4 linked regions of the Homo sapiens genome follow. The protein of the gene in region 3 binds, or shares a complex with, the protein of the main gene of each other region. Each region holds a gene or a part of one and is shown on either strand. Other genes may lie near its edges. The genes, in order: SNRPD1, PRPF6, PPIH and USP39.

Region 1 (7,289 bases), on a different chromosome or scaffold from region 3:
ACAGGTGCCCGCCACCATGCCCAGCTAATTTTTTGTATTTTTTAGTAGAGACGGGGTTTCACCATGTTAGCCAGGATGATCTCGATCTCCTGACCTCGTGATCCGCCCGCCTTGGCCTCCCAAACTGCTGGAATTATAGGCGTGAGCCACCACGCCTGGCCTATTTCTTTTTCATGGTTTATAATGAGTCTAAGATCTTGTATGTCTGGATTTCAGGTTTGAGAATTAGAAACGTCCAAATGACAGTTTATGTTAGTATTGTTGTGTTCCTTCATAAAGGTTGAGGATATAATTCAGGAAAGCTGAAATTGTTATGCAGATTATTGATAGGAATTGATGCAGATAGCATCTAGCAAATTTTCAACATCGAGTTGTTTCACCCTTTCACCTTAATAAATGTGATTTTAAAGTGTTACAGGTAAAAATGGTTTTATTCCTATTTATAGATTTTTGATGAAATTGAGTCATGAAACTGTAACCATTGAATTGAAGAACGGAACACAGGTCCATGGAACAATCACAGGTACGGAGGTTGGACTGCTTTTATAACATTTTTTTTCTTCTCTTTTACCTAGCCAGAGTTTATTTTTTTATTGCTTAATGAACATTATTGTAGTACAAATCCTTATTTTTTTTGTCTGAATTATGTAATTTTTTTTTTTTTTTTTTAAACAGTTTTGCTCTGTCACCTGGGCCGGAGTGCAGTGGCACGATCTCAGCTCACTGCAACATCCGCCGCCTGGGGTCAAGCAATTCTCCTGTCTCAGCCTCCCAAGTAGCTGGGACTACAGGTGCCTGCCACCATGCCCGGGTAAATTTTTTTTTTAGACGGATTCTCACTCTGTTACCCAGGCTGGAGTGCAGTGGCACAATCTCAGGTCACTACAACCTCTGCCTCCCGGGTCCGGGTTGAAGCAATTCTCCTGCCTCAGCCTCCCAAGTAGCTGGGGTTATGGGTGCGTGCCACCACACCCAGCTAATTTTTTATATTTTTGGTAGAGACGGGGTTTCATCATGTTGGCCAGGTTGGTCTCGAACTCCTGACCTCATGATCCATCTTAACAAAAGCAGTAACAATTCTTATATACAGAGAGAAGCAGAAACAAAGGTGAGGATAGTTTGGTGGAATGGGGATTATGAGGAAGTTACAAAGACAGTGGGAGAAACATGAAAGAAATACCTGTCACATCAGTAGTGAGCCTAAAGCCCAGTCAGGGTTCTTCCATGGCTTGCTGCATTCACTTCTGTAAGCAAAACATTAGTGTGCTAGGAAAAATCTCTAGGAAGGAAACACTGCTGACATTCCCCCATTTACCAGTTGCACATGTGCTAAATTGTGTCATAGAAAACTTGCACTTTGTAGAAGAACAGTAATCTTTTGTAGTCCAGTATTTACTGTGGCTCAGTAGATTAATTAGTTGCCTTAACTTGTATCATACTAATAACTGCACAATTATTTTCCTCTTTAGGTGTGGATGTCAGCATGAATACACATCTTAAAGCTGTGAAAATGACCCTGAAGAACAGAGAACCTGTACAGCTGGAAACGCTGAGTATTCGAGGAAATAACATTCGGTATTTTATTCTACCAGACAGTTTACCTCTGGATACACTACTTGTGGATGTTGAACCTAAGGTGAAATCTAAGAAAAGGGAAGCTGGTAAGTTTGAAGGATTATAAACATTTTTGTGAATGCTAATCCTAATCCACACTATTCATAATATAGATATTATTTGCAAACAACACAAGTGTCTTTGTTGTTTAATATTTCCTATAGTATGTATAGTAATTCTTGGTGTTGCTATTAAAAACATTGAGCAACCGGACGCAGTGGCTCACGCCTATAATCCCAGCACTTTGGGAGGCCAAGGCGGGTGGATCACGAGGTCAGGAGTTCAAGACCAGCCTGGCCAACATGGTGAAGCCTCATCTCTACTAAAAATATAAAACTTAGCTGGGCATGGTGGCGGGTGCCTGTAATCCCAGCTACTCGGGAGGCTGAGGCAGGAGAATCGCTTGAACCCAGTAGGCGGAGGTTGCAGTGAGCCGAGATCTCACCACTGCACTCCAGCCTGGGTGACAGAGCCACTGTCTCAAAAAAAAAAAAAACCAAACAACAAATATCGATGTGGTCGGGCAGGGTGGCTCACACCTGTAATCCCAGCACTTTGGGAGGCCAAGGTGGGCAGATCACCTGAGGCCAGGAGTTCCAGACCAGCCTGGTCAACATGGCGAAACCCCCTCTCTACTAAAAATGCAAAAAAAATCAGGCGTGGTGGTGCGTGCCTTTAGTCCCAGTTACTCGGGAGGTTGAGGCAGACGAATCACTTGAACCTGGGAGGTGGAGGTTGCTGTGAGCCAAGATCACGCCACTGCACTCCAGCCTGGGCTACAGAGTGAGACTTTGTCTCAAAAAAAAAAAATATATATATATATATATGATTGTAATCCATAGCTTGAAAAACAATGATTTAATCTCTCTCTCGGTCCTTTATCTCATGCTGCTTTCCACTTTAAAAAAACCCCCTGTGGGTACCAAAATCTACAGATTCTTAAGTCCCTTTTCATAAAATGGTAGTAGTGTTTCAGTGCACATCCTTTTGTACCCTTTAAATCATCTCTAGATTACTTGTAATACCTAGTATAATGTAAATGCTCTGTAGATAGTTATACTGTATTGTTTAGGCGTTAATGACAAGAAAAAGTCTGTATGTGTTTAGTACAGATACAACCATCATAGGCCTAAACTACATTTTTGATCCTCAGTTGGTTAAATCCATGGATGTGCAACCCATGGATATTGAAGGCTGGCTGTATTTTCAAATCTGAGGATGTTTTGCTTTAATGTCGTTAGGGTTATTCTACATTTTTTTTTTTACTACCTACCTACCTGTCGGGGAATTGATGATTGAAAGCCCCCCGCCTCATATCATCTTACTCCACGCTTCTGAATCTTAGATTTTTCAGAAGTTATTCTTCCTTTACTAAATGTTACAGTTCCCAGTCTACTTTCTATTTAAAATTTTGTTGAAAAAAATTTTTTTTTTTTTTTTTGAGATGGAGTTTCGCTCTTGTTAGCCAAGCTGGAGTGCAGTGGCAGGATCTCAGCTCACTGCAACCTCTGCCTCCTGGGTTCAAGCGATTCTTCTGTTTCAGCCTCCCAAGTAGCTGGGATTATAGGTGTGTGCCACCACACCCAGCTAATTTTGTATTTTTAGTAGAGGTGGGGTTTCATCCTGTTGGTCAGGCTGGTCTCATACCCCTGACCTCAAGTGATCCACCCGCCTCGGCCTTCCAAAGTGCTGGGATTACAGGCAGGAACCACCGCGCCCAGCCGAAATCTTTTTTTGAGATGGACTCTCACTCTGTCGCCCAGGCTGGAGTGCAGTGGCGCGATCTCGGCTCACTGCAAGCTCCGCTTCCCGGGTTCACACCATTGTCCTGCCTCTGCCTCTCCAGTAGCTGGGACCACAGGCGCCTGCAACCACGCCCGGCTAATTTTTTGTATTTTTAGTAGAGACGGGGTTTCACCGTGTTAGCCAAGCGGTCTCGATCTCCTGACCTCATGATCCGCCTGCCTGGGCCTCCCTAAGTGCTGGGATTACAGGCGTGAGCCACGGTGCCTGGCCCAAAATCTTTTATCTACTGTGTTTTCTCTGCTTTTCTTTGTTCCTCTGGGTAGTTATCATTTTTGTTCCTTTTCTATCATAAATACTATTTCAGAAGAAATTGAAGGTAAGTGTGGTCAATTTGGCCCATTTTAACGTGTTCTAGACTTACAGTTTTTGTGTGTACACATTTAAAATAGTACGGTTTAAAATAACTGAAATTGGCCAGGTGCGGTGGCTCATGCCTGTAATCCCAGTACTTTGGGAGGCAGAGGCGGGCAGATCGCCTGAACTCGGAAGTTCGAGACCAGCCCGGGCAACATGGCATGAACTTTGTCTCTACTAAAAATACAAAAATTAACCAGGCATGGTGGCAGATGCCTGTAATCCCAGCTACTCGGGTGGCTGAGGCAGGAGAATTTCTTGAACCCAGAAAATGGAGGCTCCGGTGAGCCGAGATTACGCCACTGCACTCCAGCCTGGGTGACAGAGTAAAACCCTGTCGCCAAAAAAAAAAAAAAAAAAAAAGGAAACTACAACAAATTAAATAATGAAAATGAGTCTTCGTTTCAAGTTTGTCATAGTCTAGTGTTAGGGAGTTATTTAAAAATTATTGGTTTGGGCCAGGTGTGGTGGCTCACGCCTGTAATCCCAGCACTTTCAGAGGCTGAGGCAGCTGGATCACAAGGTCAGGAGTTCAACACCAGCCTGGCCAATGGTGAAACCCCATTTCTACTGAAAATACAAAAATTAGCCAGGTGTGGTGGCGGTCACCTATAATCCCAGCTACTCGGGAGGCTAAGGCAGGGAATTGCTCGAACCTGGGAGGCAGAGGTTGTAGTGACCCGAGATCGCACTACTGCACTCCAGCCTGGACAACAGAGAGAGACTTGGTCTCAAAAAAAAAAAAAAAATTGTTTTGTTTGTTGTTTGTTTGGTAAGAGACAAGATCTCACTGTGTTGCTCAGGCTGCAGTGAAGTGGCATGATCATAGCTCACTGCAGCCTCAAACCCCTGGCTTCAGGCTGTCTTCTGCGTTGGCCTCCCAAATGTTTGGATTTTTTTTTTTTTTGAATAAACATTTATTTTCTTTCTTTAAAAAAAAAAAAAAGAAGCAGCAGCTGGGCGCGGTGGCTCACGCCTGTAACCCCAGCACTTTGGAAGGCCGAGGCAGGTGGATCACCAGCCTGGCCAACAGAGTAAAACCCCATCTCTACTAAAAATACAAAAAAGTAGCTGGGCGTGGTGGTGGGCGCCTGCAGTCCCAGCTACTCGGGAGGCTGAGGCAGGAGAATCGCTTGAACCCGAGAGGCGGAGATTGCAGTGAGCAGTTGTTTTCTTAATTTATCTTTCTTTTTTACAGATATGCACCACCAAACCTGGCTAATTTTTTATTTTTTATTTTTTTGTAAAGACAGGGTCTCCCTATGTTGTCCAGGATAGTCTTGAACTCTTGGTCTCAAACAATCCTCCTGCTGTGGCCTCCCAAAGTGCTGGGATTATAGGTGTGAGCCACCATCATACCTGGTCCATTTTCTTTTCTTGGGTTTTTTTTTTTTTTTTTTTTTTTGAGACAGAGTCATGCTCTGTTGCCCAGGCTGGAGTGCCATGGCGCGATCTCCACTCATTACAACCTCTGCCTCCCAGGTTCAAGCAGTTCTCCTGCCTCAACCTCCCAAGTAGCTGGGATTACAGGTGCCCAGCCCTTTTGTTGTTGTTGTTGTTGTTGTTTTACAACACCCCTCCAACTCTGTTTTTCCCATTTTCTTTATTTTTTTAAACACTTCATTTTGAAATAATTTTAGACACAAAAAGTTGCAAAAATAGTACAAGGAATTCCCATACACTTTTCACCAAGATTGTCTAAATGTTAAAATGTCATATAACTACAAAAAATTAGAAATTTTACATTGATGTGTCACTACTGTATTATCTAGAGACCTTTCTCACATTTCTCTGATTGTCCCTTTAATGTCCTTTTCCTGGTCCAAGATCCAATCCAGTACAACAGGTTGCATTTACTTGTACGTTTCCTTAGTTTCCTTTAATGCGTATCAGCTGGTTCTCCTCAGTTTTCCTTTTGTGACCTTGATACTTTGTAAGAGTACGGGCCAGTTATTTTGTGAAATGTCCCTTAATTAGCATCTTAAACTTACTATTTATTGCTTAGAATGGTAAGACTAGAATCAGTGTGTACAAATTTCTAATGTGGCCAGGTGCGGTGGCTCACACCTGTAATCCCACCACTTTGGGAGGCTGAGGCTGGAGGATTGCTTTGGCCCAAGAGTTTGAGAGCAGCTTGGGCAACAAAGGGAGACCTCATCTCTACAAAAATTTTAAAAATTAGCCAGACATGATGGTTTGTACCTGTAGTCCCAGCTACTCAGGAGGCTTAGATGGGAGGATCACTTGAGCCCAGGAGTTCAAGGCTGCAGTGAGGTGTAATTACACTCCAGATGGGACTACAGAGTGAGACCCTGTATTTAAAAAACAAAAACAAAAACATTTAGAATGTGACTGACTTCTATGTCAAGATTTTCTAATATTCTTAGCTGTCTGAAGATGAAATAAGTTTATTTGGGTCATGAATTCCCTATCACCATGATACTCAACTAGAGTTAGGATGACCCAGTAGGGATATTACTATTTGGATTAAAGCACTAGATTATGTGTAGGTCAAATGAGTTTTAATTTTCTGAAGAGTTAATAAGATTGTGATTTGATGTAATACATTTAAACTTTCCTGGTTTTGAATTAACTTGCTTGGATTTTATTCAGTTACCAAAACTCTGGCATCAAGGTGATCATGTTTTATTCTGTGATATATATCTTCCCTTTTTTTGTGAGGTTCAAATCATTTTATGGTGAATTTGAGACATGATATAAAGAAAAAGTATTTTTAAATTTGACACATTTCTTAGTAAATAAATTGAAATGAAACAAATAATAATCTCCCTAGGCCTTTAGTTATTGGTTCTGCATGATAATGTGTTGGGGGGTGGAGGGAATCTGAAGTCTAACACATTTAACAGAAGCTAGTTAAACTTTATTTACTGTAGCTACTAATAAAGAGCTATAAACAGGGAAAGGTGTGTGTGTAAATGTTGTTTGTGGTGTCTAGGTAACATTGGTGCAGGAGAGAATTGAACTTGGTTTGTTTTTCTTTTCCTTCAGTTGCAGGAAGAGGCAGAGGAAGAGGAAGAGGAAGAGGACGTGGCCGTGGCAGAGGAAGAGGGGGTCCTAGGCGATAATGTCTCTCAAGATTTCAAAGTCATATGAGATTTGGGATATTTTTTGTACAGGTTGTGTTTGTTTATGTCAGTTTTTAATAAACATAAATGTGGGACAGAGCTGTCTATTTAGTATATCAAAGTTTTAGTAGTTTCCTCCACATTCACGAAATTACCACAGTGAGAGCTAAGCATTTCTACTGGGCAGTTTCATTTTTAGTTGATCAGGTTTTAAGTTTTTGAACTAAAATTTTTCTTTTTCTTTTTATGATGAATAAGGTTAAAATAAAAGCCTTAGACAAATTAAATTTGGCAGAGTTTAATTGAGCAAAGGACAATTCACAAATCAGGTAGCCCCTGAACCATAATAGGCTCAGAGGCTTCAGCCCAGCTGCATAGTTGAAGATTTATGGACAGAAGGAAAGTGATGTATGGAAAATGGAAGTGAGA
Region 2 (7,108 bases), on a different chromosome or scaffold from region 3:
CTGGTGCCAGGTGTCCGAGGCAAGTGGCAGGGGATGCTCTCAGCTGACACCGTGTGCTCCAGGAGGGTCCGGCAGAAGCTGAAGTGGGCAGTGGCTGTGTGTGGGGGTGCCTGGTCAGGGCAGTCAAGGGCAGAACCAGAGGCTTCCTCTACTTGAGAGCTAGCTCCCTGCCCCATCTCCTCCACACTAGTGCGGGAAATCACCTCCCCAATGAGGGGTTCCCAAGCCTCCAAAGGCAGAAGGAAGTGTGCAGGACCTGTTTCGAGGACCTCACCCAGCACAAAAAGAGAAGAACTGGAAACACCTTTCATCTTGCAAGTCTACAGCCCTCACCCAGGGGAGCAGGATGGATTCTTAGATCAGAGGATGTGCCCTCTAGGGAAGGGAACCTGAGACATATGACAAGAGGAGCTATCCTGGGACAGCCCTGACCTCACCCTTGCCTTGGGCTGGCCCACAAGTCTTGCACACACCACACCAGACCAGGAAGTGCACACACGGCCTGCTTTGAGGAAAGGCAGATCCCGAGTCCGGGGAGGTCGTCTGTGCTGGGGAAACCGGGCTGAGGATGCTGCTTGCCCATCGCCACTGAAGGCACCCAGTTCACACAGCCCTATCTGGTGTTGGGGCCCGACTCACTGACTATGACTCATTGACAGCCTGAACTGTGGGCCAACTGACAAGCAGGGCTCACTCCGCAAACACGCGCTGGGCTCTCCAGCTGTGCCGCCCCCCACAGGGCCTGCAGCCCGGGACAACACCGGCCATGTGAATGGTGGGTACCCATTGGATATGGGCGGGTCAGCACAGGTATGTGGGGTGCAGCCATTGCTTGGGGACCCACGGTGATGCTCTGTGCTCCCTCTTCCCACAGTAACTGCATTAAAGTGTTTCATCTGAGCTTTGTCATCATCTCTGGGGGCACTGCTGACCTGAGTCTGGGGAGGCAGGCGTCTTGATCCAGGTCTGGTTACAGAGGGGCACCCCACATTCATTGTCAATGAATGAATGAATGAAGGCTCTGTATGGTATCTGCAAGTGAACAGAGCCTGTGGGGAGACAGAAGGTGGGCACAGGCCTGCCCCTGTCTTTACAGCACCCTAGCACCCAGGCCTTCAGCAGGGCAGGTGAGGTTCCCACGCTAGGGCCCTCATCCCATCCACCCTAGAGTGAGAGACCCTCCCGGCCTCAGACTCAGCCACCCACTCCACACCCAGGGCAGGGGTTGGGGATGTGTCTAGGAGGTCTAAGTATCGGTGAAAACCACATCCTACTTCCCCGTCCTCCCACGCCTGTAAGACTTAGGAGACATAACACCTTCCGCCCCCATTCTTGCAACTTTCAGGAACCGGACCCCTGGGTGACTCCAAATTTGAGGTCTGGGGTCAGCAGAGGGTGTGCTCAGTGGGCCACCGCCCCGAGGTGGCCCCTAGTGCTGTGGGAAAAGGCTTATTCTAAGCCCGCGCCTTCCAGCGGACAGGCGCCGTGGTCGCCGGGCTTTGCAGGGCCTCGAGCGGCGGGGCTGGTGCAGAAGCGCGCGGCAGTCCGGGGAAACCCGTCGGACTCCTCAGCCCGCACGGCACCTGCCCCGGCCAAGCAGGCTCCGCCCATTTCCTGCCTGCACTCCCGGAGGGAGTTCCGTCCGTCCCGCGGTCTGTCGGTCCGGTCCCTCCCGCCCCAACGTCAGGATTCCAGAAGGAAATGGGGCGGGGGCACCGAGGCGGGATGTGACCTCGGCCCCCTTTCGGCCCCACTGCAAAAGCGGGGGAGGGTTTTCCCCGTGCGCAGGAAAAGGTGACCCGAGCGTAGTGCCAGCCTGGACACAGGCGCCCCGGCTTGACACCCCCTCACCCCAAGCCAAGGGCGCGCTGACCCCCAAGGCCTGAGGCTGGCTGCCCCCTAAAGCAGGACAAAGGCTACGGGACCCCGTTGAGCCGAGACATCCGCCGAATACCCCCAGCCACCGCCGCTCGAAGCCCGCCGGGTCCCGCCCCGCCCCCGTGCCTCTGGGTCCCTGAGACCCCCGCCCGAGAAATCCCCGCTCCCCAATCCAGCCCCGCTCACCGTCCACATCCCGGCGCTCCCCGAAGCCCGCGCGCACGGCCCCGGCGCGGCCACGCGGGGGGCTCAGCTTGGACCTCAGCTCGGTGAACATGGGGCCCGCGGGTGCCAGGCCCGCGCACACGCCCCTCGCCGAGTGCAGGGCGGCCGGTGTGGCCGGCGGGGAACGCGCGCCGCCGCCCCGCCCCGCCCCAGCCGGCCCCGCGCCCGAGCCGGTCCCCGCGGCCCGCGAGTGTGCGCGACGAGGCACCTGCCGCCGAGCCCTGTGTGCCGGGCGCGCTCCGGGAGCTCCGAGGTGTGTCGGCGGCGCGCGGGCCTGCGTGCACCAAGGCTGTCCGCCAGGGCGAGGGGCGTCCGTGCGCCCCTGGGCACGGCTCCGCGGAGGAGAGTCCCCGTGAACCTGCCGGGCGTCCTCTGAGGTCGGGCCCCTCTGTGCGTGGGGGTGGGCTGAGGGGCATCTCACAGGGGTCTTCTACCTACCGGGGCCAGGACAAGGGGCAGGTCAACGCCTCCCACACACTTTCCTCGGTCTCCTACGTCTTTACTCGCCTTCAAATAGGCACCCGCTTCCCCGGAGAAACCAGCTTGACTCTTGCTTACCGCCCACCCCACTGTGAACATCAGGGTGGTTCTCCCTTCCCTCTGCAGCCCCAGAACCTGGCTCAGTGCCCGGGGGAGAGGGGGCGGTACAGTGCTCTGTAACTGAAAGGGGCTTGGCTTGCCTGGAGATGGGGCAGAGGGGAACTCCAAGGAGGCTGTAGCAGGCCGGAGCGGTGTGTTTGCTCCAGGACTCCAGTGAGAAGTGCTGAGATGGGGCTGGGCTAGGGAACTGTGGTTGCCTGGTGCAGCAGCAGGCCAGGCTTGCAACCAGCTATTCGGCTTGCTCTGCCCAGGAGCCTGGGTGCTCTCCCTGGGTGTATGTAGGGGCTCTGGAGGATGTCTTACAGCAGGAGGACCAGAGATGCACACAGACATGTAGAAATGCATGCACAGAGTACAGTCATGCACTTGCACCCAAAACACGAGCACACGTGACCTCTGTGCACACACCCCACTAATCACACACACAGAATTCACCCACATGCTTGACAGCCATGTTCATGTACTGACGTGTTCCCGACAGCTCAGCTGCGGTTATTTATTTCGTCAATTAGCTCTCCAGGAGCTAAGGATGTGGCCCTCACCAGAATGTCCAAGGCATGTTGGCGGGCGTGGGTGGGGTCTCTAGTCCCACTGGAGGGACAGATGCCTGAATGGGGGTTCAAGAATATGAGTGCTAAAAGCGTAGGGCAGCAGTGTGCGCACAGGACGCACACAGACAGGTGTGCCCATAACCAGTACACACAAGCTCTACACAACTGGACAGGGTACAGCTCTGCTCGGACAGGGCGCACCAGGGGCGAGGGCGGGCAGCTGGGCTGGTTCAGAGGGAGGGGGCCATGGGTTCAGAGGGAGGGGACCATGGGTCCCACTCTCACAGACAGGTCTCCGGACTGCATCAGAGCACTCGGGAAGCAGCAATGCCCCAGGCTGTTTTTAGCCCCCAGGGGCCAGTTAGGGTCCCAGTGCAAGCTCGACCTAGCTTCTTCCGCCTCTCCACGAGGAGGCGCTCCCGCGCACGCGCCTACCACGTTCCTGCCCCCTAGCCGCGGCCGGAAGTCGTCGAACCAGGACGTCGGGACTTCCGCCCAGGGAATCAAAAGTGGGCGGGGCGTGTGCGGACTGAGCGCTCTGCTTCCGGGGCGCGGGTGACGCGACGACGGCGACACTTTGCTACGGAGTGCATCGGACGTCGAAGCCTAGAGTCTCTGCGTCTTTCCCTCTTCCGCTGCCTCATTCCTTTCCTTCCTAGCCTTGGTCGTCGCCGCCACCATGAACAAGAAGAAGAAACCGTTCCTAGGGATGCCCGCGCCCCTCGGCTACGTGCCGGGGCTGGGCCGGGGGTGAGGCCTGGGGCGGCGCGCGAGGGGCGGGGACCCGGCTACAGGAGCGCAGTGCTTTGGGGCGTGTTTGGGGGCGGGGGTCTATGGCCGCGCAGTCTGAAAGACGCTTGGTGGATCGGCTTAATCCCTGCAGGAAGCAACGGGCTTTGGGGTCAGGACATACCTGTGTGTGCACCCTGCTTGCCGCCTAGATGTGACACATTGACTCTCAGCCCAGTGTTTTGGTCTGTAAGATGGGTAATGCTGTATACGGTCTGCAGTGAGGAGTAGAGGAATCTGACGTGTAGTGGAAACACGCGACCACCTTCCTCAGGTCGGGCTGACACTCCCCCCCCCCGCCCGCCCGCCCGCCCCGCCTTAAGCGTGCCTGGGTCCTCTATGCCTGCAACACAGATGACCACCGTGCGTTGCTGGATAAGTGAGCAGTCGTTATTATCCTATTTGGCTATTCATTTGATGAGGAACACTACTGGGTTTTTCTTGGTGGTGGTATTATATTGGAATCTGTGGGGCACACACAAGCTCACTAAGGAGGGTTTGCTATTACCATAAATAAGTACGTAAAGAGGACCAGATTTAGAACCCAGTGCTTAATGGAGAGTAGCATTGGAGCCAAGTTTAGTAAGAGAGCTGGACTTAGGGCTGTAGAAACGGTGACGATAGAAGAGAAACTGACATTCTGCGTGTGGGAGTTCAAAAAAAGTGAGGCAAGGAGGAAGCCCAGGGAACAGGAGGGAGTCCAGTGTGAGTGGAATGTACAGCGAATAGAATAGAGCTCAGGAGGTTGGAGGGGCCTTGAGCGTCAGGCTAGAGCTCCTGGAGACGTTAGAAAGATCATGACCCTTCAGAATTATTATTATTATTATTATTTTTTGAGACAAAGTCTTGTTCTGTCGCCCAAGCTGGAGTGCAATGGTGCGATCTCAGCTCCCTGCAATCTCTGCCCCCCGGGTTCAAGCAGTTCTCTGCCTCAGCCTCCTGAGTAGCTGGGATTATAGGTGCCCGCTACCACGCCCGGCTAATTTTTGTATTTTTAGTAGAGACAGGGTTTCACCATGTTGGCCAGGGGGGTCTTGAACTCCTGACCTCATGATCCACCCGCCTCCGTCTCCCAAAGTGCTGGGATTACAGGCGTGAGCCACCACGCCCGGCCCAGAATTTTTTACTCAGAGCTGTGTTTTGGGAAGAATCATCTGGCAGAGCATGGGTTGAAGTAGAGGAAGGCTAAAGGCAGGGAGAGGTAACTTGGTTTCCAGCTGTGATGGGAGTCATAGTCTGGGAAGGAGGGATTTTGAAAGTGGATTCATTAGTACTTGGGGACAGACAGGATGGGGAAAGTGGGAGAGGGAGGCAAAAATTACATCATGGTCCCGTGGCATCTGGGACAGCTGTTATCAGCTGAAACCCCCCAGAGCAGCTGTAAGGTGGGCACGGAAGAGCTCAGTGTGGGCCAAGTTGGGTTTAAGGGCCTGGTTGGATGTGGAGGGGGAGATGATCGAAGCCTTAGGGTGGAGAGAGATTGCCTTGGTAACATCATCAGGGTAGGCTGAAACTTTCAGGTAAGCAGAGAAGATCAGAAGTGTTTGAGACTGCAGTTCATTGTCACCAGGATCTTTGGAGGTTTCCCAAAGGTGTTAGAAAAAGAGGTGTTAGTAAGTGATAACCAGGAGTGGAGAAGAGCACAGGAACAGAGTTATTCAGACACCCGGTGTCTTGGGGGTCTCCTGCAGCGCCACTGGCTTCACCACGCGGTCAGACATTGGGCCCGCCCGTGATGCAAATGACCCTGTGGATGATCGCCATGCACCCCCAGGCAAGAGAACCGTTGGGGACCAGATGAAGAAAAATCAGGCTGCTGACGATGACGACGAGGATCTAAATGACACCAATTACGATGAGGTGAGATGTGTCCGGCTTTCGTGGCTCCTCCAGCCAGTCTCTGGGAGCAGCTGACCTAACCAGTGTGTGTTGGTGTCTGTAATGAATGGCTTGGAGTGGCTCATGCATTTAAATTTTAGCTATTCATGGAACATCTTTACTGAGAGTGAGAGGGAGCAGGAAAAACACGGAGAAATGTGCACTTTTTGTCCCTCAGAAGAGATGTTCTTGCAGGTGTTAGGACCACTGCCTTGGCATTTTCTATTGCCCAGTCTTTTTTTTTTTTGAGACGGAATTTCGCTCTTGTCGGAAGAGATGTTCTTGCAGGTGTTAGGACCACTGCCTTGGCATTTCCTATTGGCCAGTCTTTTTTTTTTGAGATGGAATTTCGCTCTTGTCGGAAGAGATGTTCTTGCAGGTGTTAGGACCACTGCCTTGGCATTTCCTATTGGCCAGTCTTTTTTTTTTTTTTTTTTTGAGACGGACTTTCGCTCTTGTTGGCCAGGCTGGAGTGCAGTGGTGTGATCTCAGCTCACTGTGACCTCTGCCTCCCCATTTCAAGCGATTCTCCTGCCTCAGTCTCCAAGTAACTGGGATTACAGGCATGCGCCACCATGCCTGGCTAATTTTGTATTTTTAGTAGAGACAGGGTTTCTCCATGTTGGTCAGGCTGGTCTCGAACTCCTGACTTCAGGTTGTCCGCACGCTTCGGCTTCCCAAAGTGTTGGGATTACAGGCGTGAGCCACTGCGCCTGGCTGCCAGTCTTTAATGATAAAAACTTAAAGTGGAATTGGTGATAGTATTTGCTTTTTTTAGCTTTAGTGATTGCCCTCTAAACAGACATCTAAAGAAAAACTTCAGCTGACTGAATACCGATTAACTGTCTTCTAACAGATGACATTTTTCCTCTGAGGAAAATTTTTAAAAATAATTTTAGTTTTGAGGCCAGGTGCGGTAGCTCACACCTATAATCCTGGCACTTTTGGAGGCCGAGGTGGGCGGATCATGAGGCCAGGATATCGAGACCATCCTGTTTAACATGGTGAAACCCCGTCTCTACTAAAACTACACAAAAATTAGCCGGGCATGGTGGCATGTGCCTGTAGTCCCAGCTACTCGGGAGGCTGAGGCAGAAGAATGCTGTGAACCCGGGAGGCGGAGGTTGCGGTGAGCCAAGATTGCGCCACTGCACTCCAGCCTTGGCGAGAGTGCGAGACTCTGTCTC
Region 3 (7,289 bases):
AGAAATTGGACTTTTTAAGAATACCTATAGATGATCTATGATAGGTTCACACTAATTAGTCATATGAAACTTAGTCAGAAATCAGCTGTGGTTTTTGTTTTTTTCTGAATGGAGGTAAGTCTCCTTCTAGTGGGCTAAATGCTTGTTTCATTTTCTCTTTTACTTCTGGGTGTCACAGTGCCTGGAAAGCTGAGTTTTTCATAAGAAGTTGATTTGTGGGCAAGGAATCAGAGCAAGAGAGGTAGATAGTTCTGGAGGAATTTTGCTCTATTCACTGAGAGAGCCCAGTGAAATAGTTCTTTTTTGCTAACCATAGCTTTCTTGTAAGTAGACTGTTTTTGTCCCCCATATGAAGCCTCCCTCCCCACCCCAACCTTGGAGGGTGTGGGATAAACTACATTTTTTCTTTCTTAAACCTGCTTTTGTCCTTACCCCCCACTTCTGAATGGTCTTTCTTTACTCTTATTAATATCATTTGGTTAGTTGTGTTGCTGTTTTCTTGGATCTGGGAGACATGTGTTCTCTTTTATGTGTTTATTTAGTCTGAATCTCATGAGTTTTTAAGACCTCTTTCCTTTCCTATGCAATACAGGGTTGCAGAGTGGCAGGTTTTAGGCCGAATTACGTTTTTACCTATGTTTTGATTCATCTGCATGGTGTTGTATAACTGTGAAATGGCACAAAAAAATCCTAGTTTTTTTTTCTCTTTAAAAAATGGAAAGTGGAAGTATGCTGGGCCTGCATTTCTCACAGTGGCAGTGACAGTGACAATTGGTTGGAATCAAGGAACTGGTCCCTTTGGACATGGCATATCTTTGCCATTTCACCAGTCTCCACAACTGTTTCCCTTATTTACGTTGCCTGCTCCTGTGGGCATTTGTTTGCAGCCCCGGGAAACAGATAATGGTAGTAGGGTTTGTTAGCTGGTAAGAAGGGCTGAGAAGCTATCCTCTGCCTTCTTTCCTTTTTTTTCCCCTAGGCTTCCCTGTTGCCTTACAAGGAGAGGAATAGCTTTTTACTAGTCTTTGCCCCAGGCACATCTGATCACTTGTCGATAACTCTGGGGTTAGACAATAGTTGCTCAGTCTGAAGGCCGAGTTAAAAGCAATTGCTGGTAGGGCTCACATCTGTAATCCCAGTACCTTGGGATGCTGGGAGGATTGCTTGATCCCAGGAGTTTGAGAACAGCTTGGCAACATAGTAAGACCCTGTCTCTACAAAAATAAGAAAAGTTATTTTTTATTTTTTTATTTTTGGTGGTGTGCGCCTGTAGTCCCAGGTACTTGGTAGGCTGAGGTAGGAGGATCCCTTGAGCCCAGGAGGTCAATTCAAGGCTGCAGTGAGCCATGTTCATACCACTGCACTCCAGCCTGGGCGACAGAGCAAGACCTTGTCTAAAGGGAAAAAAAAAAAGCTTGCTTAGAACCTTCCTTGGGGAAGGCAAAATGGAATGAGCAAGAGTCAGAAAAATCAGAATTTGAGACCTTCCAAAGTTTGACCAAGAATATTTGTTTGTTCATTTATTTTTGGTTTTAATAGTATTTATTATTTTGGTTGCAAAAGAAAAGTGCAAAGAAGAAAATAAATCACCAAATGAATTACCCTCATTCTCACCTCACAATATACTATTGGCATTTTGGTTTACAGTTGTCAGTCTTACCTTAGTATGTATATGTGTGTTTATATAATTTTTAACAGACTTAAAATAATCTATATGTTTTACTTTTTTTGTACTTCATAATTGTCCATATTTTCCCTTGTCGTTATGTCTTCTAAAACATGCTTTCTAATAGCCACCTAATATTTCATTATGAATAGACAAGTTATTTGATCAATTCACTATAGTTGAAGATAAGTTGCTTTCTATTGTTTGCTCCAAATTATTAATTTTGTAATTTTCCCTATTGTTTCTGGAGAGCTATAGATAACGTGATTACGGAGAATGGCACGGTAACTGATGTGTCCCTTAGGTTCACTGGGAAATTGGAGATGAACTTGTTTTCTCTCTTCCTTCTGTATTAATATGTATGTGTAGTTAGTTAATGACATATTAGCTTATTTGATTATTTATATAGTACTATATTGTTTGTACAGTGCTTTTTACAGACACTATCTAATTGAATCTTCATGATAACTGTAAAGAGTAGGTAATTTCATCCTCACTTGATAGATGAGGAAATTGAGGCTCACAGATTGGAAGTGACTTTCCCAGCTCTAAGTGATAGATCTGGAACTCAAATTCAGATCTTTTTTTTTTTTAGATGGAGTCTCGCTCTGTCGCCCAGGCTGGGGTGCAGTGGTGCGATCTTGGCTTACTGCAACCTCCACCTCCCGGGTGGGTTCAAGCGATTCTCGTGCCTCAGCCTCCCGAGTAGCTGGGATTACAGGTACCACCACCACACGTGGCTAATTTTTGTATTTTTAGTAGAGATGGGGTCTCACCATGTTGGCCAGGCTGGTCTCAAACTCCTGACTTCAGGTGATCCACCCGCCTCAGCCTCCCAAAGTGATGGGATTACAGGTGTGAGCCACCACACCAGGCCAGGTCTTTCTAATATACAGACTTGATTTTATTTTATAATATTTAGGCAAACAAAGGTTTGAATTTGGACAGTTTTTCTTTATTCTCTGGCTTATATTAATGGTAGTTCTTTTCCAAAAAGGGACCCTTGATTCCTCACTGGGTCAGTGTTTTCCCTTTCTCCCATGTACTCTTTCTCTTTACTAACTGGCGAGGAGAGCTTGATCTTTTTGGCACTCCTCAATATTGCCTTTAAAACTCAGGGATTCTATTTAAGGCACTGCAAATATGGCCTTGGTCAAATTGTTTTATTACCCAGACTTCAGTTTCCTCACATGAAAAATGGGGAAGATGATAATGCTTATTCCTCAAGGTTGCTGGAAGAGCAAGGAGATAATGCAAATAAAGCTAGTTTAAGCAGAAATTGGGAGTTTATAATAAAGGGAGTGTTTCATGGAACTAAAGGAAGAAATAGAACTAGGAACTAGAACCATAGAGAACCAAGGCAGTTCTTTATCTCCGTTTCTCTAGTGCTCGCTACACATCTGTGTTGTGTTCTCTCTCTGTTCTCTAGCCCAGCTTGCAAATGGTAGTCACATCCAGCTTTCAGGTTTACATGTTACAAATTTAGCCTCAAAGAGAGCATCTATCCCACCTCCAGATTCCCAGAGAAGGAACTCTAGTTGGCCCAGAGTGAGTTAGGCATCCTTCCCTAGATCAATCAACTATGACCAGGAGGGTGGTATCATGTTGTACATACAGACTGCCAAGAGCTCACCCACCCTCTTAGATAGTTTAGGGGAATGGGGTGGTAGTCACTTAAGTGGGTACTTTTATGTGACTGAAGGCATGAGAGTCTTCAGGAATGGCAAGGATTGAGTATGTGATCACCTTGTTGCTGTTCCCTACTTTGTCTGCATCTTAATTGATCGTTCTAGAGGCCCAGCTGTGACCTCTTTTATCCAGTCTATAAAATGCTCCAGCCAGTCTTTGTGGGCTGTAGGTACCTTATATAAGGCTTGATCTGATTGCAGGGTGGGGTCAAATAGGTGCAGCTTCCAAGATGACCAACAAGAGTAAGAGTAGACTTTAAAGATGTCATGCTTTAGGTGCGACAGTGTTCTTCCTCCGGTTTCCAGGGACCCAACACTCCAAGTCACTAATACTTCCCTTCTCTCTGCTCAGGGAGATGGTACTGGAGTCGCCAGTATTTACCGGGGGCCATTTGCAGATGAAAATTTTAAACTTAGACACTCAGCTCCAGGCCTGCTTTCCATGGTAAGTGAGGTCCAATCAAGGTTTTGGGTTATAGCCAGCTGGTTCCTGGGCCCCTCTTGAGGCCCAGTGCTGTCTCTTGGGATGGAAGCAAATGCTTTCCTTCTCTTGCTTGGCCCAGGACTCACCTTTACCACCTCCTTTCTTAGTCTGGTTTGACTGAGAAAACCAGTAGGTATGCTGGCTCACGCCTGTAATCCCAGCACTTTGGGAGGCTGAGGCAGGTGGATAACCTGAGGTCAGCAGTTCGAGACCAGCCTGGCCAACATGGTGAAACCCCATCTCTACTAAAAATACAAAAAATTAGCCAGGTGTGGTGGTGGGTGCCTGTAATCCCATCTACTCGGGAGGCTGAGGCAGGAGAATCGCTTGAACCCAGGACGGGGAAGTTGCAGTGAGCTGAGATTGCCCCACTGCACTCCAGCCTGGGCAACAAGAGCGAAACTCCATCTTAAAACAAAGAAAAGAAAGAAAAGAAAACCAGTAGGTAAGGCCCACTAGCAGGCTAGCAGGCTGGGGAACTAAAATCTGAACCAGGATTTGTGTCTGGGCATTCAGCCCTACTGCTCAGAATGTAAACAGTTGTGCTTTCAAGACATATTCATAGCTGGGTGTGGTGGCTCACACCTGTAATCCCAGCACTTTGGGGAGGCCGAAGCAAGAGGATTGCTTGAGGTTGAGGTCAGGAGTTTGAACAATCTGGGCAACATAGTGAGACTTAGTCTCTACTTAAAAAAGAAAAAAAAAATTAGCCAGGTGTGGTGACACACACCTGTAGTCCCATCTACTAGGGAGGCTGAGGTGGGGAGGATTGCTTGAGCCCAGGAGTTTGAGGCTGCAGTGAGCCATATCCTGTTCATCTCTGTATCCTTGGATCCTAGCTTAGGCCCTGGCTCATAATAGGTGCTAAGTTAGATTTACTGAAAAAAACCATAGAGGAATCAGTGTTACAAGCTCTTTTGGAAATCTTGCCCTTCAGCTAACATGGCCGGGGAAACTTACTGCAGGTATATTTGGTTTCCATCAGGCGAACAGTGGTCCAAGTACAAATGGCTGTCAGTTCTTTATCACCTGCTCTAAGTGCGATTGGCTGGATGGGAAGCATGTGGTGTTTGGTAAGTCCTACTCCTGTCTCATGGTCCAGGCCCCATTCACCCTGGATGGAACCTCCAGAGGAGTTAGTTCTCAAACTCTTACCAAGAAAGCTCAACCTGTGTAACTGCTTAGGTGGTAATAGAGAAAACAGAAATGGTGGGGAGGTGGGGAACATGTGTGGCTAGAGAACTAGAGGGAAGGACAAAAGGACCATTTGATATAGTATGGAACCACTTAGGGAGAAAACCCAGTTGCTAGCACCAAAGAAATGCCATAGAGGCAGCATGATACGGTGAGACTTTGGAGTCACTCAGGTATAAGTTTGAGCCCTAACTCTACTTATTACCTATGACCTTGAGCAAGTCATTTCACCTCTACCGCATCTTAATTTCCTAAAGTTAGTATGAGGGTTTAATGAGAAAATAGCTAAGAATGGGCTTTGGAAGCTGGAAAATGCTATGTAAACAAGAATAAAGTCCAGCTCATGCTCTTCCTACAGGAAAAATCATCGATGGACTTCTAGTGATGAGAAAGATTGAGGTAAGTACTGCTTTGATTTTTCTGTTTCTCTGCCATTGTGGTCTGGTACTGTCTGACTAGCGTGCAGGAGCTAGAGAAGGGGGAATGAGCTCCAGTTTGTTAGGCTGTCTTCATTGCCCCAGGAAAAGGGAAGAGAACCACCTAAGTTAGCCTGTCTGGCCAACACTGAGGTTTGGCCTCTGATGATCCTGTTGCCTACTTGATAAAATTCTACTCCTCAGCATTGCGTTCAAGGTCCTTCATGATTAGTCCCTGTCTACCTCTCCATGGCCCCTTCTTCTGCCATTGCCTCTTCCATGTTCCAGTCACATCAGGCTACTAGCTCTTCTCTAAATCTGCCATGCATGTCCCTGCTGCTTGCTCTTTCCTGCCCCTGAGCCTTTGCTCACACAGTTTCCTCTAGCCGGAATGCTCTTCTTTCCTTCCCTCCTGATGGAATCCCATTCATCCTTCTAGGCACAGTTCAAATACCCCTCTTTTGTGAATCCTTCCCTGACCTCTTTAAGCCCCAATTTAGTTGCCTATCTAACCCTTATCCAATTCTCTCTTATAACTTTTTCTTATATAATCATAAGTTTGATATTTTCTAAGTGTTTTGCATTTTCTCTTTGATAGGTATTATATGCTTTACCTGTCTGCCAGGACATGGACTGTTTCTGAGTGCTGAGTCCTTAGCACAGGGCTGGCAGGCATCAGTAAAAGTTTGATAAGGGAACGAGGAAGTGCCTGAGTGGATGAATCTCCATTGTGCTTTTTTTCCTAGAATGTTCCCACAGGCCCCAACAATAAGCCCAAGCTACCTGTGGTGATCTCGCAGTGTGGGGAGATGTAGTCCAGACAAAGACTGAATCAGGTAAGTGTGTCTTTCTCCTATTAGGTTAGGAATCAGACCTCAGAGAAGGCAGCATGGTCTAGTGGAAAGAACTTTAGTCTTGAAGACATGAGATTGAGCCCAGTTCCTCCGTGTATGGCCTTGGAGTAGTCACTTTCCTTCTCTGAGCACATTTCCTCATCTGTCAAATGGAAATACTGTAATACCTATCTCTCAGAGTCACTGTAAAAATAAAAAGAGAAAGGGTTGTAGGAGCACTTTACTTTTCTATCACTTTGTAATGTACAAAGTATCAATGTGAAAACTACTCAGGCAGTTTGTAACAGCACTCTCAGACTACAGTTCCATTCAGTAGTCCCCCTAGAAAGACCTGGCTCCAGGCCTGAGTAACTCTCTGCTGGGACCAGGCCAGGCAGCCAGGAGACACACCTGTCATGCCTCTCATCAGAACTGATACTGCAATTCCAGGCCTCGACTTCATATTCGCTGGCCTCATAGGTGAATGCCTTGCATCTTCCAGCCTACATGGACTCATTTCTTACCCGTAATTACCACTGCCTGCTCTGCGCTGGGCAGCATGCTAGCTGCAGAGAGGGGGACAAAGAATTGAAAGATGTCTCCTTTCAGGAGCTCATGGAAAGTAAGACATTCCCAGAGGTGATCACTAGTAATATGAGTGACATTGCCAAGTATGAGAAGAGTACAAGGGAGAAATCCATCACTTCCAGCCAGGTGAGGGGTAGTGATGTTTTGTTTTTCTTTTTTTTTTATTTTCAAACCTGCAAAAAAGTTAGAAGATAATACCTTGAACACCAATATATCTTCACTTAGATTCACCAATGATTAACATTCTTGTTTTATTGCTTTGCCTTGACATTTGTTTTTTTCTTTCCCTTCTTGCCTCCTCACCCATTTCCATTGCCTCTCCTCCTCCCTCCTGCTCCTCTTCCCTCCCTCCATCCTTTCCTTCCTTTCTTCCCATCTTCCTTCCTTTACCCTTTCTTCTTCTCTTTCCCATTTGAAAGT
Region 4 (7,289 bases), on a different chromosome or scaffold from region 3:
GGACATGGTGGGCAGAAGAGAAAAGTGCCTGGCATAGTCAGAGACTGCAAGTAGCTGGACCCTTGGACTCCTGGGGTCAGTGGAGAGCCAAGGTGTAGATCCTGAGGGAGGGACCAGATGGCCTGCTTTATAAGCTACCATAAGGAGCTTGGATTATATCCTGAAAAAAGCTGGAGTCATTGAAGGCTTTTATTTTTTTTTGAGATAGAGTCTCACTCTGTTGCCCAAGCTGGAGTGCAGTGGTGTGATCTCGGCTCACTGCAACCTCTGTCTCCCCAGTTCAAGCTATTCTGCCGCCTCAGCCTCCCGAGTAGCTGGGACTACAGGCACCCACCACCATACCTGGCTAATTTTTTGGTATTTTTAGTAGAGACGGAGTTTCACCACGTTGGTCAGGCTGGTATCGAACTCCTCACCTCAGGTGATCCACCCGCCTCGGCCTCCCAAAGTGCTGGGATTACAGGTGTGAACCACCATGCCCGGCCTCATTGAAGGCTTTTAACAAAGATGTGACATCAGACTTATGAATTTGTTTTTAAAACATTATTCCAGCTGGGCATGGTCACTCAAACCTGTAATCCCACCACTTTGGGAGATCAAGGTGGGTGGATTGCTTGAGCCCAGGAGTTAGAGACCATCCTGCGTGACATAGACCCTATATCTACAAAAAATTTTTAAAAATTACCCAGGCATGGTGGCATGTACCTGTAGTCCAGCTACTTGAGAGGCTGAGGTTGGAGGATCGCTTGGGCCTAGGAGGTAGAGGCTTCAGTGAGCCATGTTGGTCCCACTGTACTCCAGCCTGGACAACAGAGTGAGACCTCTGTCTGTAAAATAAAAAGAAAAACATTATTCTGGCTGAGGATTGACTTAGAGGGGACGTCGAGTAGTGGCTTTTTTTTTTTTTTTTTTTTTTTTGAGACAGAGTCTCGCTCTGTTGCCCAGGCTGGAGTGCAGTGGCGGGATCTCGGCTCACTGCAAGCTCCGCCTCCCGGGTTCACGCCATTCTCCTGCCTCAGCCTCCCAAGTAGCTGGGACTACAGGCGCCCGCCACTACGCCCGGCTAATTTTTTGTATTTTTAGTAGAGACGGGGTTTCACCGTTTTAGCCGGGATGGTCTCGATCTCCTGACCTCGTGATCCGTCCGCCTCGGCCTCCCAAAGTGCTGGGATTACAGGCGTGAGCCACCACGCCCGGCCGAGTAGTGGCTTTTAAGAGTCTCTGGTACTTAAGGAGAAATAGGAGGAATCAAGGTGGTAAGGAATGGGGCCCATGGAGCACTTGTTTCAGGGTTAGTAGGAAATAAGATACACTTCGGGTTGGTTACAACATGGCCAATGAAATCTTAATCTGGGGCCAGGCGCGCTGGCTCATGCCTGTAATCCCAGCACTTTGGGAGGCCGAAGTGGGAGGATTGCTTGAGCCCAAGAGTTCAAGACCAGCTTGAGGAACATAGTGAGACTCCCTCTCGACAAAAAATGTAAAAGTTAGCCGGGCATGATGGCACACGCCTGTAGTCCCAGCTACTTGGGAAACTGAGGTGGAAGGATTCCTTGGGCCTGGGAGGCAGAGCTTGCAGTGAGCTGAAGTTGCATCACTGCACTCCAGCCTGGGTGACAGAGTGAGACGCTGTGTCGCGAAGAAAAAATCTGGGTGCCTCACCCTTCTAAACAGGTGACAGCCTGTTTGTGTGCTTTGTAGGACCATCTAATTCCCAAGAACTAGGTGGCTAGGTTATCTTGTGTTTATAGAGACATTTCTGTTTCTGGACCAACTCCCTGAGCTCCCAGGGTTTTATATTAAGGCTGCAAGAAAGGAAGAAATTTGTGTTGAGAATGATTTTTTTGTGGACCATGAATGGATGGATGAGTGTCAGCATTCACTGTGTTCCACAGGTGACTTATGGCCTGAAGGTGGATAGTGGGGCCTGTCAGCTTTTGGCAGCTTGGAAAGTTAGGGCATAATTGGGTTGTAGAGTTGCAGAAAAACCAGGGTACCCTGAGAATCAACGTGTCTAGTTTCTTCTGTCATAGCCACTATTGGCTAGGATAGTTATGATGTCACATAAACATAATTTCCTCCATCTCTGAGACCTAGTAGGTTATTAGTTGCCGAGTGTTTAGATGTGTGAAGTGTTTCTTGCTGTGGTAGTTTGTTACATAAGAGCATTCTGTGTACAGGGAATAAAAAGAAAATCATTCTATGGAGTTGTTAGAGGCCTCTGGGTTTAGGGAAATGAAGTTGAGGAAGATATACTATAGTCTTTGAGATTTTAATTGCGTGAGCAAAGAGGAACTAAATAGAAGCAAATCTTCGTTGAAGAGAAAGTAGTCATTATCTGGCTGGGCGCAGTGGCTCATGCCTGTAATCCCAGTACTTTGGGAGGCTGAGGCGGGAGGATCACTTGAGGTCAAGAGTTCGAGACCGGCCTGGCCAACATGGTGAAGCCCCGTCTCTACTAAAAATACAAAAATTAGCTGGGCATGGTAGCAGGCACCTGTAATCCCAGCTACTCAGGAGACTGAGGTGGGAGAATCGCTTGAACCCAGGAGGCGGAGGTTGCAGTGAGCTGAGATCATGCCACTGCACTCCAGCCTGGGCGACAGAGTGAGACTCTGTCTCAAAAAAAAAAGTAGCCACTATCCCTGAAATGTCTGAGTGGCAGGTTCCGTAGACAGCATTTTCATGGAATATTGTCAATCTGCTTTCAGAACCCCTTGTTCTGTATGCCTTTTCAGTCTGGGTGCTAGTCACTTTCCTAAAAGACAGGAATCTTCATGAGCTGCAGAAGGGAAGAAGGAAGTTTGAGCTCACTCTGGAGAAAAGTGGATGTTAAAAGGTCATATTCATTTGTTTTGGTCATCACTGAGTGATGCGATACAGTCCTGGTATGAATCAGAGAGCCTATGGAGAGAGTCAAGATCGGAGGAGTGAGAGCTTGACCTTGAGGAGTGCCAGCATTTAATGATAAGATAGAGGAGGATGCACGGCAGTTGGGATGGGATGGCATGGCCAGAGAGGAAGGGGGAGAACCAGGAATGCCAACCAGTGCATGGTTTAAGTTAACTCTAATGCCACTTAGCTTCAACGTTTTCCACCCTTCCTTTTTTTCCAGGAGATGGCGTTGACTTTCTGTCTTGGTTTCTGAATGCTCTGCACTCAGCTCTGGGGGGCACAAAGAAGAAAAAGAAGAGTAAGTCATTTACTTATAAAAAGGAGTTATTTTGTTCCCTTTTAAAAAACTTTGCGGTCGGTCGCAATGGCTCATGCCTATAATCCCAGCTCTTTGAGAGGCCGAGGTGGGTGGATTACCTGAGGTCAGGAGTTTGAGACCGGCCTGGCCAACATGGCGAAACCCCATCTCTACCAAAAATACAAAAGTTATTCAGGTGTGGTGGGATGTGCCTGTAGTCCCAGCGACTTGGGAGGCTGAGGCAACTTCCCATTCTTTTGTTAACTGTTTATCTGGGGTAGGCTAGTATCTATGTTATAGATAAACTACATGTTCTTTCTGAATAGGCCCCTCTCCATAGTTTTTGCTAGAATATGGTTATAGTCCCAATGATATTTTATTATATATATATTTTGAGACAGAGTCTTGCTCTGTCACCTAGGCTATGCAGTGGCACGGTCTCAGCTCACTGTAGCCTCCATCTCCCAGGTTCAAGCAGTTCTTCTCCCTCAGTCTCCCAAGGGTAGCTGGGATTACAGGCACCCACTACCACGCCCAGCTGATTTTTGTATTTTTAGTAGAGATGGGATTTCTCCATGTTGGCCAGGCTGGTCTCAAACTCCTGACCTCAGGTGATCTGCCCAAAGTGCTAGGATTATAGATGTGATGGTGTCTTGATGTGGGATTGTGGCCTGTTGCTTTTCCCACTGGATGGCCCTGCCCTCTCTACCAGGTGTCTTCAGCCTGTGTTAACCCTCTGAGCTCTCTAACTTGCGTCTTGGCAGGGTTCTAGAACTTGGTTGTGCTTTCTCTCTTGTTGCTTTGATCCTGTTCTGGCCCATCTCTTAGTCTGTCATTGTCCTCTTGTCTTCATTACAGTTTGGACATTGTCTCCCTTTGAAAGTAGCTTATGGTTATGGGAAGTTCCTTGGCTGTACCTTGTTTTGCTTGTGAATTTTTTTGTAATTCATGTATCACCATTCCTTCATTTTGAACACATTTACCTTTTCTTTTATGGACCAGGCCCTGTGATGGAGGATAAAAAGTTGTCTTAAGAGAAATAAAGTAATTATTTACACAAATAATTATAAAGGTACCCTGGTGGTATATAGTACAAAAGGAAACTTCTGTGTTTAGTGAGAGCTCTGTGTCTTTTGCTGGAAGATGCTGGTTTATTTCAGAAATTTAGAAGCTGGAAATATACTTCAGACATGTTTTCCATCCTCACGGAATTTGTCTCTTGCTTCCTGTTTGTGCAGCTATTGTGACTGATGTTTTCCAGGGGTCCATGAGGATCTTCACTAAAAAGCTTCCCCATCCTGATCTGGTGAGTTAATTGAGCCTGGGTCTTGGACTGATTCATATTGCTTGAGGGGACGTAGGGGAGATGAAGAGATGCTCAGAGAACTGACAAGCCTGCTTGCCCTGTGAAGAGGTTCAACAAAGCACCTGCCTAGTGGCAGCTCTGCCTGGTCCCTGTCATACTAGTGCACTTTTTCAGTTTGGGAGTTAGTGGTTGGATGTACTGTGCTGGTTTAAGTGTTCTGGCCACTAGGTGGTGCTGCTGTGTTTTTTCAGAAAGCTCAGCTAAGCTTTCTTTTTGTTTTTCTTAGTCTCCCTCTGTCGCCAAGGCTGGAGTTGCAGTGGCGCCATCTCAGCTCACTGCAACCTCTACCTCCTGGGTTCAAGCGATTCTCCTGCCTTAGCCTCCTGAGTGGCTGTGATTACAGGCGCTTGCCACCACGCCCAGCTAATTTTGTATTTTTAGTTGTGACGGGGCTTCACCATGTTGGTCCAGGCTGGTCTCGAACTCCTGACCTCAGGTGATCTACCTGCCTCGGCCTCCCAAAGTGCTGGGATTACAGGCGTGAGTCACCGTGCCTGGCCCTCAGCTAAGCTTCCTAGATGGTCTTAGAGCTTTTCTTTTTTGAGATGGAGTTTTGCTCTTGTTGACCAGTCTGGAGTGCAATGGCATGATCTCAGCTCACTGCAACCTCCACCTCCCAGGTTCAAACCATTCTCCTGCCTCAGCCTCCGAAGTAGCTGGGATTACAGGCATGCGCCACTATGCCTGGCTAATTTTTCTATTTTTAGTAGAGAAGAGGTTTTACCATGTTGGTCAGGATGGTCTCAAACTCCTGACCTTAGGTGATCCACCTCCCTTGGCCTCCCAAAGTGCTGGGATTACAGACATGAGCCACCGTGCTCGGCCCACTTTCTTTTTTTAATGGATTTTTTTTCCTTTTTGAGACAAGATCTCTGTCACTCAGGCTGAGTGTGGTGGCGTGATTATGGTTCACTGCAACCTCAACCTCCCTTGCTGAAGTGATCCTCCCACCTCAACCTCCCCAGAAACTGGGACCATAGATACACACCACCACACCGGGCTAATTTTTATTTTTATTTTTGTTTAATTTAATTAATTAATTAATTTATTTATTTTATTGAGACGGAGTTTCACTCTTGTTGCCCAGGCTGGAGTGCAATGGCACTATCTCGGCTCACCGCAACCTCCGCCTCCCGAGTTCAGGTGATTCTCCTGCCTCAGCCTCCCGAGTAGCTAGGATTACAGGCGCCACCACCACGCCCGGCTTATTTTGTATTTTTAGTAGAGACGGGGTTTCTCCGTGTTGGTCACGTTGGTCTTGGACTCCTGACCTCAGGTGATCTACCTGCCTCGGCCTCCCAAAGTGCTGGGATTACAGGTGTGAGCCATCATGCCCGGCCAATTTTTTTTTTTTTTTGTAGAGATGGAGTCTCACTGTGTTGCCCAGGCTGGTCTGGAAGTCCTGGACTCAAGCAGTCCTCTCACCTTTGTTCCCAAAGTGTTGAGATTACAGCCGTGAGCCATCACACTTGGCCTCAGGGCTTTTTAGATAGTCTGGTATATAAGCAAAATATCTTTAAAGAAGGAAACCTGTTGGTTCTTAAGTTAATCTAACCAGGTGGTGCATGCCAAACTGCCCAATCTCTCGGGCACTTCTCTTTGTTCTTTCAGATGAAGGAAATGTCGGCGTGGTAAAACATCGGTTCTGTGTTGGTTCCTATACCCGTCACACTCCTTTCCTCTCTTTTCTTCTCATTCATTTCTAGCCAGCAGAAGAAAAAGAGCAGTTGCTCCATAATGACGAGTACCAGGAGACAATGGTGGAGTCCACTTTTATGTACCTGACGCTGGACCTTCCTACTGCCCCCCTCTACAAGGACGAGAAGGAGCAGCTCATCATTCCCCAAGTGCCACTCTTCAACATCCTGGCTAAGTTCAATGGCATCACTGAGAAGGTAGCCCATTAACACACCTGCCCTGCCTATACTTACCCTCGCTCTCTCGACTTTTTCATTTTCTTTTTTTTTTTTTTTTCAAGACAGAGTTTTGCTCTTGTCGCCCAGGCTGGAGTGCAGTGGCGTGATTTCGGCTGACTGCAATCTCTACCTCCCAGTTTCAAGCGATTCTCCTGCCTCAGCCTTCCTAGTAGCTGGGATTACAGACATCCGCCACCATGACTGGCTAATTTTTTATATTTTTAGTAGAGACAGCATGTTGGCCAGGTTGGTCTCGAACTCTTGACCTCAAGTGATCAGCCTGCCTCGCCTCCCAAAGTGCTGGGATTACAGGCGTGGGCCACCACACCTGGCCCATTTTCATTTTATATGTAAGAATCACCACATGTATGTGACGTATTTATTATAAATTATATTGACTTTATTGAGCCTCCCAGACTCGTTGGTATTTCTCACTGGTCACCCCCAACTCTTAACTTATAGTGCCCCTTTTTATTATTTTTTGAGACAGGGTCTAGCTTTATCACCTAGTCTGGGTGATCATGGTGGCGTGATCATGGCTCACTGCAGCCTCAAACTCCTGGGCTCAAGTGATCCTCTCACCTCAGCATCCTAAGTAGCTGGGACTAGACACACTCCACCACATCCAACTAAGTATTTTTGTAGAGAGAGTGCTCACTTTGTTGCCCAGGCCATTCTTTAACTCCTGGCCTCAAGGGATCCTCCCACCTCGACCTCCCAAAGTGTTGGGATTACAGATGTGAACCACTGCCCAACCACAGTGCCCCCTCTTGTACTTCTCATATATCCTGTTTTCAGCTTTCTGCCTGCCTCT

What was found.
Region 1: PPIH (region 3) and SNRPD1 share a complex: the UniProt entries of both Homo sapiens proteins name them as parts of the U4/U6-U5 tri-snRNP complex.
Region 2: PPIH (region 3) and PRPF6 share a complex: the UniProt entries of both Homo sapiens proteins name them as parts of the U4/U6-U5 tri-snRNP complex.
Region 4: PPIH (region 3) and USP39 share a complex: the UniProt entries of both Homo sapiens proteins name them as parts of the U4/U6-U5 tri-snRNP complex.

The regions. Positions count from the first base shown.
Region 1 is NC_000018.10:21,622,279-21,629,567, forward strand, and holds part of SNRPD1 (small nuclear ribonucleoprotein Sm D1), read left to right. Parts: intron 1-446; coding exon 447-523; intron 524-1,469; coding exon 1,470-1,661; intron 1,662-6,783; coding exon 6,784-6,860; 3' UTR 6,861-7,289. UniProt on the Homo sapiens protein: Plays a role in pre-mRNA splicing as a core component of the spliceosomal U1, U2, U4 and U5 small nuclear ribonucleoproteins (snRNPs), the building blocks of the spliceosome.
Region 2 is NC_000020.11:63,977,313-63,984,420, forward strand, and holds the start of PRPF6 (pre-mRNA-processing factor 6), read left to right. Parts: upstream 1-3,819; 5' UTR 3,820-3,933; coding exon 3,934-4,004; intron 4,005-5,734; coding exon 5,735-5,903; intron 5,904-7,108. Other genes in the region: SAMD10 (sterile alpha motif domain-containing protein 10), read right to left, coding at 1-94, 933-1,032, 2,542-2,682. UniProt on the Homo sapiens protein: Involved in pre-mRNA splicing as component of the U4/U6-U5 tri-snRNP complex, one of the building blocks of the spliceosome.
Region 3 is NC_000001.11:42,661,157-42,668,445, forward strand, and holds part of PPIH (peptidyl-prolyl cis-trans isomerase H), read left to right. Parts: intron 1-3,706; coding exon 3,707-3,799; intron 3,800-4,823; coding exon 4,824-4,911; intron 4,912-5,390; coding exon 5,391-5,431; intron 5,432-6,194; coding exon 6,195-6,263; 3' UTR 6,264-6,284; intron 6,285-6,890; exon of another isoform or gene 6,891-6,995; intron 6,996-7,289. UniProt on the Homo sapiens protein: PPIase that catalyzes the cis-trans isomerization of proline imidic peptide bonds in oligopeptides and may therefore assist protein folding. Participates in pre-mRNA splicing.
Region 4 is NC_000002.12:85,632,938-85,640,226, forward strand, and holds part of USP39 (ubiquitin carboxyl-terminal hydrolase 39), read left to right. Parts: intron 1-3,115; coding exon 3,116-3,193; intron 3,194-4,431; coding exon 4,432-4,499; intron 4,500-6,265; coding exon 6,266-6,454; intron 6,455-7,289.